Linked DNA regions of Homo sapiens. The protein of the gene in region 2 purifies or fractionates together with the protein of the main gene of each other region. This does not show direct contact. Each region holds a gene or a part of one and is shown on either strand. Other genes may lie near its edges.

Region 1 (3,034 bases), about 25 Mb from region 2:
GGTTTCCTTAAACTTAGTTCTCTTGTTTTTGGGTAACTGTGAATAATTAAGTTGGAATCAAGATTCAGATTAACTTTCCTATTTGCATAGAACACATGAGAGGAATAAAATGGTTGGTAAATATTGGCTAACCCTTGATTTTTATACCAGATTAACCTTGGATTCCCAGTGTCTGGCACAGTTTTAATAGCTTAAATGGAGGCCAGGTTTCTGGATGTTTTAACATTCTCTTAAGCCTTCAGAAGGGTAAAAAATTTAAAGCAAAATGATCTACCAGGGTTTAAAGCAAAGTTGCAAATTACTGAAGCTAATCTTTGCTTCCTGATTTTGAGGTTTTTGGTTTTTTGTGCCCACGTTGTGGGGAGCTCTTTTTTACCTCATTACATGGTGCTGTAGTACTCCATTCAGGCACTGAAACAAAGTTAACCCTATAAGTAACTCATGGATGGAAACCCGTAGAACTTAACAGCCTCCTCCTGACCTTAAAAGAATAAAGGTTCACAGTTTACCTTTAATTCCCTAGCAGTCTTGCCAGATGTATGGCATAAAGTCATGTGAGAAGAGTAGGTGGAAAAAACTGTACAAACTTAACCCCTTCAGGTGTTCAGAACAGATTAATATACCATGTATTTAATACCAATAATAATGCAAAATAAAAGTTTCATACTAAGTTTTATTGTATGCTGCTGCCAGTGTATATAAAACAATTACCCTTGTGAAATAGAAATTCATGAAAATTCAGAGAGGTAGATGTTAAGGACTGACGAAAGTAGAAGTTTGTATATTATGGCACATGTGTTACAGGGATAAGCTTTTGTACAGGCTTCAAATGTAGCTCTCTTGAATATTCACTGGATCATAAGGAGTGGTTTGGGAAACCTAAGATGGGGAAAAAAAAAAAAAGGTGAGTTAGGGTAAAGTATCAAAGAACATAGTTTTTAATTTTTTTCATGAATAACTTAAAAGAAGCAGGATGGGAAATGCCTATGGTCCAGTAACAGTAAAATCTTTCCCTTAATTTTCACAACCACTCTGATGTATAAGTCATTCCTGTTTTATAAACAGACTTACAGATTAACTTGCTAAGATTACTGCCAAAATACATTCTGTATATAATAAAAAAGGTTAATAAAACTCTCTTAAATCAAAAATCCAAACATCCTTAGAAAAATGAGCAAGACTATATTTAGCAGGGCAGTTTGGCAGTATCTAGTGAAGTAAAGGATGCAACCACACTTCTAGTTACCTAGATAAACCCAGACATAGAGAAACATGTACAAGGATACTGACTGTATTAGTATTTTAACAGCAAAGAACTGAAACAGCCTAAATATAACTCCGTAGGAGAATGGATAAACGAAGGTTTCTACATATGATGGAATACAAAGCTATTATAAGTTATGCCTTAAAAAATAAGTTATGTTTTCAAACCATAATATTTCAGTTTAATAGAGTATAAACTAAAAGATTTAAAAAATGAAAACATTAAATTGAAAAACAGTGTACTAAAAAATTAAAACATGAGCATACTAACTTTAGGATTAGTTATTGATATGGAAAGGTACAAAAGTGTTAATCTGAGATAGTCTGTGACAAAAATGTTGAAAAGGCATAAACAGAATGCTGTGAAAAATGTTTAATCTCACCTAAAATAGTGACAGAAAAGACTAAGGTTTGTTAGGACTCAAGGAAAAAACATTCTCATGTTTCTAGTGGAAGGCCAAAGTATTATATTGGCAGGGGATATCAAGTACAACGTTGTAAAAATGTTAAACGTTCACTCCTTTTTACTTCTAGAAACTTAATAGAGGTACTAAGTATATATAGATGTTCACCAAAATCTTCACCTCACTGTAACCTCAAATTTTGGAAACTTAAATATTCAGTGAAGTATAATTCCATCATAGTTTAGTACAACCATTAAATATCTTGTTTACAAAGAGTATTTAATGAAATAAATTCATTTAAAAAAGGCAGAATGAAAAACGGCGAATACTGTCAATAAGCCTGTCGTCTTATCTGCATTTTTTTGTGCATACATGTTCTACTGATTAACAGTTTTTAATCCTGTGTTATTCTATTTTGTTTTGTGTAAAAGAGGAAAAATTTCAAAAGCTGGAATCTCAAAAAAAATAGTAAAATTTCCTCTTAAAAGGAAATACAGGGCCGGGCACGGTGGCTCACGCCTGTAATCTCAGCATTTTGGGAGGCTGAGGTGGGCAGATCACCTGAGGTCAGGCGTTCGAGAAACGCTGTCTCTACCAAAAATACAAAAAGTAGCCGGGCGTGGTGGTGTGCACCTGTAATCCCAGCTACTCAGGAAGCTGAGGCAGGAGCACTTGAACCTTGGAGGCAGAGGTTGCAGTGAGCCGAGACTGCGCCACTGCACTCCAGTGATAAAACTGTATTTATATACATAACTCCAATGTAGATTCTTTACATTCATGCCACTCAGTGTAGGTCCAGTACTGTCAGCATCAGTGTAGGTGGGCAGTTGTAAGAAATGCAAGTTCTAGGGACTCACCTCAGACCTTCTGAATTAGAATTTGCATTTTAACAAAGTGATTTGCATATATTCAAGCTTGAGAAGCAATGCTTTGATGCCCAATTATTATTCTCCTAGCCCAAACTGCTGCAAATCTTAATATCCACAAAGCTGTTTTCTTATACTGCTGGGATTAATAGACATTATTTTACCTTCTGGGTTCTTACCCCCAGCCATATTTTTAAACTTGAGCAATTCATTTAAACACTTATCTGTAGATTCCTATGAAGTAAAACTATTAACAGCTGCCCAGTATTTTATTCAAATGAAAATAAACCACTGTAAAGTGAATACAAGAACTGAGGTTAAAAAAACAATCATTAATAAACCATAAAAATATGAAACTTCCAAAAACTACCATGAAGAATTAAATGAATAGTACCAGAAACAAAGGATATTATAATAAACTGTTAAATATGAAAGTGAATTACTTCTTCATGTGCATTTTTGTGCACATGACACCTGTTTTCAAAGGGCTTTTTTTCCCCC
Region 2 (3,655 bases):
AAACTACATCTCAACTTTTTGGCCTACCACCTCACTCAAAATGTTACATATCTGCACTTATTTGTACTTCTGGTCTTAGAGGTGTCTTACTTCTTGCTCAAAAATCAATTGCTCTACCTATACTCTTTTAAAAAAATTATTGAGGAAAATTAACATAACAGATATTTAACCATTTTAAAGTGTACAATTCTGTGGCACTTAGTGTATTCACAATGTTATGCAATCACCACCTCTCTCTAGTGACAAAACTTTTTCAACACCCTATTCCCATTAAGTAATCACTCCCTTTTCTTCCCATTCTCCCACTTCTCATAACCACTAATATTCTTTCTGTCTCTATGGACAGAAATTGCCCTATTTTGGATATATCATATAATAGAAGTATTGGCCTCTTTTACTTAGCACAGTGTTTTGAGTTTCATACAAGTTGTACCATCTATTATTATTCCTTTTCTTGGGTAAGTAATATTCATTGTATGTATATAACACAATTTGTTTATCCATTTATCCTACCTAGACTCTTAATTCCTTTTTTCCCACCTGCTTGCAAATCTTGCTCCTTCAATTACATCTGTTTTTTAATGTATCTCTTTTGCTTATAGGATCTTAGCCCTCAGCCTATAAACATTCTTAAATCTCTCCCTTCCCTTTAAACCCACGTTGCTCAAGAGTAGTCTACACTTGTCTTCTTTCTTCACTTTCCATTCTGTAACTCACTGTACTCAACTTTCCACTGACACTGCTCTCAACAGCAGGTCAACGACCTCCTAACTGTTAACTCCAAAGGCTCTTTTTCAGTATGTATCTTACTTATCTGCAGATAACACTGTTGACTGAAATATTTAATCAACTCACTTTTTAACCTCTCCTTTTGGTTATGATATCTTTCTTCCTCTCCTGCCAATAGAGGCTGCTATTCTCTCTCGTTCTACCTGTGGTCCTTTTTCTCCTCATTCTATAATATTATCTCCATAGGTCATTTCACCCATTTCCATGTTTTCACTACTGATGATCTCAAACCCCAACCTCTCCTCAACCTCGAATATAACTGTCCATGAGATATTATTTCAACGTTCTATGAATAATTAAAAATCAACATTCCTATACATGAATTCAGGTCACAGCACCAGCATCCAAGACAGAAACCTGGGAGTACCTCTGACTCTTCCCACTTCCTTACCCCTGCTTTACCCCTTCACTTTATTGATTGATTGATTGATTGATTGATTGATGGAGTCTCACTCTGTCACCAGGCTGGAGTGCAGTGGTGCGATCTCGGCTCACCGCAACCTCCGCCTCCCGGGTTCAAGCGATTCTCCTGCCTCAGCCTCCCGAGTAGCTGGGATTACAGGCGCACACCACCATGCCCAGCTAATTTTTCTATTTTTAGTAGAGACAGGGTTTCACCACATTGGTCAGGATGGTCTCGATCTCTTGACCTCATGATCCACCTGCCACGGCCTCCCAAAGTGCTGGGATTACAGGCATGAGCCACTGCACCCAGCCTCACTTTATTATAGAAAGCATTTACAGTGTCTCTGCTAATAAGAGTTCCCCTTCTCTGGAAATACCTGATTCTGATCTATAAGTTTCATAGTGATCCATCCCTGGCAGTTACATTTGTGCCCCTGACCTCAACTGATTGGCCTACAGATTTCTGCCTGACTTAACCACGGCCAGAATCTCTCTCCTTGGAATTTGAAACCAAGGCCAAGCAATCCCAGTCTAGTCTGATCTTTTTTTTTTTTTTGCTCAGTCGCCCAGGCTGGAGTGCAGTGGCGCGATCTCGGCTCACTGCAAGCTCTGCCTCCCGGGTTCATGCCATTCTCCTGCCTCAGCCTCCCGAGTAGCTGGGACTACAGGTGCCTGCCACCAAGCCCAACTAATTTTTTTTGTATTTTTAGTGGAGACGGGGTTTCACTGTGTTAGCCAGGATGGTCTCGATCTCCTAACCTCATGATTCACCCGCCTCGGCCTCCCAAAGTGCTGGGATTACAGGCGTGAGCCACCGCGCCCAGCCTAGTCTGATCTTTTTACCAGAGATACAGAAACTGTGACTAGGCTGTTATCACATAAACTGAATAGCAGAGAAAGCTGGTTAGGAAAGAAAGAATAATAAAAAAGATACACAGAGAGGAGAGAAAAAAGATGGGGATAAAGAGTGCTTCCAGGGTTCCTGACAATTATTTCCTAGTTCTAATTCCATTCTAAGACCTGTCCATTCTTGCCCTTGGGTTCTATGATATATCCCTTAATCCCCATCAAAAGTTTTTATTTCCATCCTGAGTTCTTACTAATTCAAATCCCCTACTATCTATCTTTATTATTTATTGCATAATCTTTCTCAAGCACAGTTTCTTCTATATCATGCACCCCATGATATGGATCATGGTAGGATATTAAACCTTTAACTGATCATCGTCTCAGCATGAGATATAAGGCCCTCCATGAGTTGATCTCTGACCATCTCTCCAACCACTTCTTCCCTGCCACTGTAAACTCTAGTAATACCAAATTCCTTCTGGGTTCCACAACTGGTCATACCATTTTCCTACCTCCATATTCTCATATATGCAATTCCTCTTTTCTAAAATGCTTTTATTCCCGTCTGCCTGATGATTTCTATTTCATCCTCTTAGTAGCTCTAGAAAAAGACTACAGTGACCCCATCAGAAGTAACCACTTCTATTCCACTTCTATTAATGCATATTTTACACTATAATAAAATTATTTATGTGCAATTAAACACTATAATAAAATTATTTATGTCTCTCTGCAACTACATGTCAGTCTCTTGGGCACAATGATTAAAATTTACCCTTGTATTTTCTTCAACATATACCAAATTTTACTTTATTTTTTGTGAGGCAGGGGGGTGTCACTATGTTGCCTAGACTGATCTCAAACTCTTGGGCTCAAATGATCCTCCTGCCTCAAGCTTCCAAGTAGCTAGAATTATAGCCACCATGCCCAGCTCCCAAATTTACTTTTTCTCCTTTTGTATTTTCCTCAAAAAATGAAGATAGAAATTTAAAATAAACACAGAAAACTCAATTGTGTCTGATATGGCACTCTTGACTTAGGGGCTTTTAATCACAGGCTTAATGCCAATGCCACTACCACTGAATACTCTCCCAATCAATCATTAAAAAAAAAAAGGCAGTTTTATGAATGCCACCAAAGTGTTGATCTAAGTAAGATGTGTACCTCCAATAAAATCTTTCATAACCCCTTACCTGTGTATTCTGGATAACAGATAGTTAACGGACTCCTCTTTATTTTTTCCTCAAAAAGGTCTTTCTTGTTAAGGAAGAGAATGATTGAAGTTTCTGTAAACCATTTGTTATTACAAATGCTGTCAAACAGTTTCATGCTTTCATGCATTCGGTTCTGAAAAAGAAATAAAGGATGATAGGTCAGTAGCAAATAGTAAAAGTGGATTAAGTTAATGAAAAAGACAAACCAACAAGTTTTGCAGCACTAAATGGCATTCACGGAAATAAGTCAAACACCAATAAGATAAAGTTGAGTGTCAGTCCTCATTTTTGTAATTTTTGGGGGAGAGGAGGTAGGAGGAAGGGCTGGCTAACATCCTTTCCACATACTCAAGGTGGCTATAACATCTTTTTTAGAGTAATAGGGCACAGATCAAAAA
Region 3 (3,655 bases), about 88 Mb from region 2:
GCGCTTTACAATCACTCTATCACTGGATCCCCCTGCAAGATGGGGACTAGCAATCATGCCCATTTCATGCCAACTGAGGCAGGGGTGAGCCCGGCATGCCAGGACCCATGCCCTCAACTCTGGACTCCGCTGCTTCTGAGAAATTCTTTGACCTAATCTAGGTCCACCGTCCAGCACCTACCAGATGTGGGACCATCGGAGCCCTCCTCAAAGGAGACACCCCAGATCCATATTGACCCCACCTGTCCTGTCTCCAGTCCCCAAGCCTCTTTCTCAAAGACGATCTGTTCACCTCAGTTCCTGGGCAGGCCTGGGCAGCCGGGCTAATTCCCTTATTCCAACCCATAGCTCCAGCTGTGTGACCTGTCCTGGGTTGAGGGTGAGGTGTGACCAGCCGGCCGGGAAGCTGGAGGATGGGCAGTTATCCTCCTGTGGGTGGAGGAGACGGTGGCAAAAAGGCTACCACCTGGGGCCCTGTGGCCTGAGTGAGTCCAGACCCTGTCCAGGAACTACTCCACTCCCCACACTTCTCATTTCAGACAACATTTGCTGAGGCAGACAGGCAAGGTTTTGCATTTTGCTTTTAAACTTGTATTGCACTAACCTAACTCTTTTACAGATAACAATAACTGTATGAGGCAAGTTGCCATTACCCTACTCAACAGATAAAGAAACTGATGCTCACAGAATGCCCAAGCTGGTAAGTAACAGAGCTGAAATTTGAAGTGTCCGTGCTCTTAATGCTAAGCTAAACCAGGGACAGGCAGGGTAGGTCACACAGGCCAAGTCCCTCTCCAATGATCATGGTTCACACACCTCTTCTGAGAACTCTATTTCTTTCCCTCAGTCAAGACAGAGCCTCTTCCTCTCTTCTCTTCCTGCTGACCTAGCAGCCTTTGTACCAGCAGCCCTTGCTGTCTCCCAGAATCCTCCACCCTTCAGCAGAATTCCCAGGTGAATTCCCCACCTAGGCCCCACCTCCAACAGTTACTCCTCCCCAAGCCAGGGCCCCACCTTACATGCTGCTCCTTCAAACTCTACCCAAGGCAGACTATGTCCCCAAGTGTAAGCCCATTCTAAAGCCCAAGTCCACTTCGAGCCCCGCCCTCATCCCAGACTAGAGCCTCCTCTAGCCACACCCCCACGCCATGTCCATTAGCCCCGGCCCCTGACTCCACCCCCAGCCACGTCCCATCCCAGACTCTACCCGCAGGCGAGCGGCCTCTAGCCACACCTCCACACCATGTCAATCAGCCCCAGTCCGGGACTTCGCCCCAGCCACGCCCCCTCTCAGACTCCAATGCGAACGGCCTCTAGCTGCACTCCCCATGCTGTGTCAATCCCCCAGTCCGGGACTCCACCCCCTCAGCCACGCCCCTTCTGCCAGACTCCACCCCCACGCCGTGTCCATCAGTCTATCAGCCTCAGCCCGGGATTCCGCCCTAGCCACGTCCCTGCTCCCCGGCCAGTTAGACCTGGGGCCCTTCACCTTGAAAGACTCAAAGAAGCCGCCGCCCCCACTGCCATTCTCCATCTTGTCCTCGTCGCCGCCCAAGCCCATCATGGACTGGCTGTGGATGTGTAGTTCCTCATAGAGCGTCTCCAGGAGGGCGGCCCGCGTCCGCTCCTGTGGGCCAGGCCCGGGCCGTCAGGAGGGACCCCAAGGATCAGCCCTTCGGCCCACAGTTCAAATCCTGGCCACCTTCTGAGGCACGGGCCACCTTCTCTGAATGAGTGGGGAGTGGGGAGGGCGGAGGGCTCCTGCACCGCCTTCCCCCAGGCCACTCCACAGCTCAAGCATCCCCCAGGGACCCTCATATGAAGGGCCCCTCAAAGCCCCTTCAAGATCTGGCTTCATGTCCCCACCCCCCAGGTCCACCCCCCCACCTGACAGGTCCCAAGGTGTCCCTGTCAGCCTAACCGCCTCCCAGCATCTCCTGGGAACTCCTCAGTATCCCTCCGGCTTCCTCTCCCCGACCTCCTACTCGTCCATCAATCCATCCAGCCCCAGGTGTCCCCGCTAAGGCCAAGGTCTGAACATGGCTTTTCCCTTCCCAGGGACAGGGCTGAAGTTATAGGTTGGAAGGTGAGAAGAGGGTCACCCAGCCCTCACAGCCCATCCTCACCTCCAGTTTGGCAAACTTCTCTGCCTTGTAGCAGGCATATTCAGCATTGATCAGCTTTGTCAGCAAAAATTCCTGGAACTCAGGCCCCTGGAAACTCCCAGTGTGGAGGAGATAAGGAAGGGAAGTTGAGATGACACATAAACAAGGGTCGGAACCCCAACGAGGCAGAGGCTGCAGCTCCTGAACCATGCTCTGCTGGGGCCTGGGGTCACCCTCTTCACTCCCAAAAGGGTATCTCCCTGGGCTCAGCTCCCCAGGTACCTTCAAGGGGCCCCAGTGCCCTTCATGGCTGCCCACGCCTTCGGGAGAGCAAACTCCACAGATGTTAGGGTCTGGGTTGGGGTCTCAACCTACTGCTTCAGTCTAGGGTAGCAGAACACGCTACGTACAGAGCTGAAGCCCAGGCTTGAAGTGTGCCCCTCCCCAAACATTTTAGAAGAAAGAAAGAGACTGGAACTGTCAGAAAGAGAACAGAAATGAGGAGAGGCCAGTCTACTATGGAAAGTGTAAAACAATCGTGTAGTTTATCCTGTGACCTTGTGAAAAAAAAAAAAAAGGTGTTTTCAAGATGAATGGAAAAGCCAGGCCCCGGTTGCAGTTAGGGGAGCCCAGCTGCCCTGGCATACAATGAGACTTTGGGACCTCATAAGGCAGAATGTGTATGCACCCCCCAGGCCCCCACCCATTTGTCCTGCTCTGCCCATGACTGGGGGGGTGCCCCTCACCTTCCTGAACACAGCGGGGTCCGGGAGGGGGGGTCCAAAGAAGGGCACATCATCTCTTGCAGTGACAGAGACCTGGAAGGGAGGGCAGCTGTCTGTTCCTGTGGAGCCTGGGGTCTGCTCTGCCCCACCCAGCCAGAAACCCCTACTGTGCCTCCCTGGACTGCCCCTTGGTCGGGGAGACCCAGTGACTGTGGGCTGGATGAATCTTTCTTCCAGAGATTTCTGCCCTCTATCTTTTGCCCTGAATTTTAGTGGTGGAGATGGGTAGGGGCCTTAGGAATCATCGGGATGGTGAAGGCAGAGGAGGCTACGGGAGGTGGAGGACAGTGATACCAGGCCAGGAGGCAGAGGAGGGAAACTGTCCTCTCTGAGGGGGTGAGCTTTGGGGACGACAGGGGGCGTGGTGTGAACAGTGCACCATTGAAGCCTTCCATGGTCCCCCCATTATAGCTGGAAAAAGTGAGGCTCAGAGGGGCATCCCAGGGAGGGCAGAGCTGCAGCCAGGGCCCTTGCTGATGCCCCTGGGAGGCTCCAAGAGCGCCCACCTTGTAGAGGGGGCCATCAGGGCCCCCGCCCTCAGCCTGCACCACGACGTAGGCATGCAGGAAGTTGGACGCGATCATGTCGGGCACGAAAGGAGTGTTCTCATCCTGGAAGACCACAGCCACGATGTCGTTCCCGATGTGCCGCTTCCGCTGCAACTGAGCACAAAGCCACGGGCCTTCGTGGTCTGGCCAGAGGGGGCCCATGGGGGAGAGGGGTGCCCACGGGGGTTTAGGAGGGTTTGGGGTAGTCAGAGGGCAC

What was found.
Region 1: the proteins of GNAI3 (region 2) and GNG5 purify together in Homo sapiens (affinity purification with mass spectrometry; 4 studies listed by BioGRID and IntAct, with this or other methods). This does not show direct contact.
Region 3: the proteins of GNAI3 (region 2) and RAP1GAP purify together in Homo sapiens (affinity purification with mass spectrometry; 4 studies listed by BioGRID and IntAct, with this or other methods). This does not show direct contact.

What each region holds. Positions count from the first base shown.
Region 1 is NC_000001.11:84,497,670-84,500,703, forward strand, and holds the end of GNG5 (guanine nucleotide-binding protein G(I)/G(S)/G(O) subunit gamma-5), read right to left. Parts: intron 880-3,034; 3' UTR 656-879; downstream 1-655. UniProt on the Homo sapiens protein: Guanine nucleotide-binding proteins (G proteins) are involved as a modulator or transducer in various transmembrane signaling systems.
Region 2 is NC_000001.11:109,586,464-109,590,118, reverse strand, and holds part of GNAI3 (guanine nucleotide-binding protein G(i) subunit alpha-3), read right to left. Parts: intron 3,391-3,655; coding exon 3,237-3,390; intron 1-3,236. UniProt on the Homo sapiens protein: Heterotrimeric guanine nucleotide-binding proteins (G proteins) function as transducers downstream of G protein-coupled receptors (GPCRs) in numerous signaling cascades.
Region 3 is NC_000001.11:21,606,724-21,610,378, forward strand, and holds part of RAP1GAP (rap1 GTPase-activating protein 1), read right to left. Parts: intron 3,553-3,655; coding exon 3,397-3,552; intron 2,924-3,396; coding exon 2,852-2,923; intron 2,583-2,851; exon of another isoform or gene 2,388-2,582; intron 2,214-2,387; coding exon 2,127-2,213; intron 1,628-2,126; coding exon 1,490-1,627; intron 1-1,489. UniProt on the Homo sapiens protein: GTPase activator for the nuclear Ras-related regulatory protein RAP-1A (KREV-1), converting it to the putatively inactive GDP-bound state.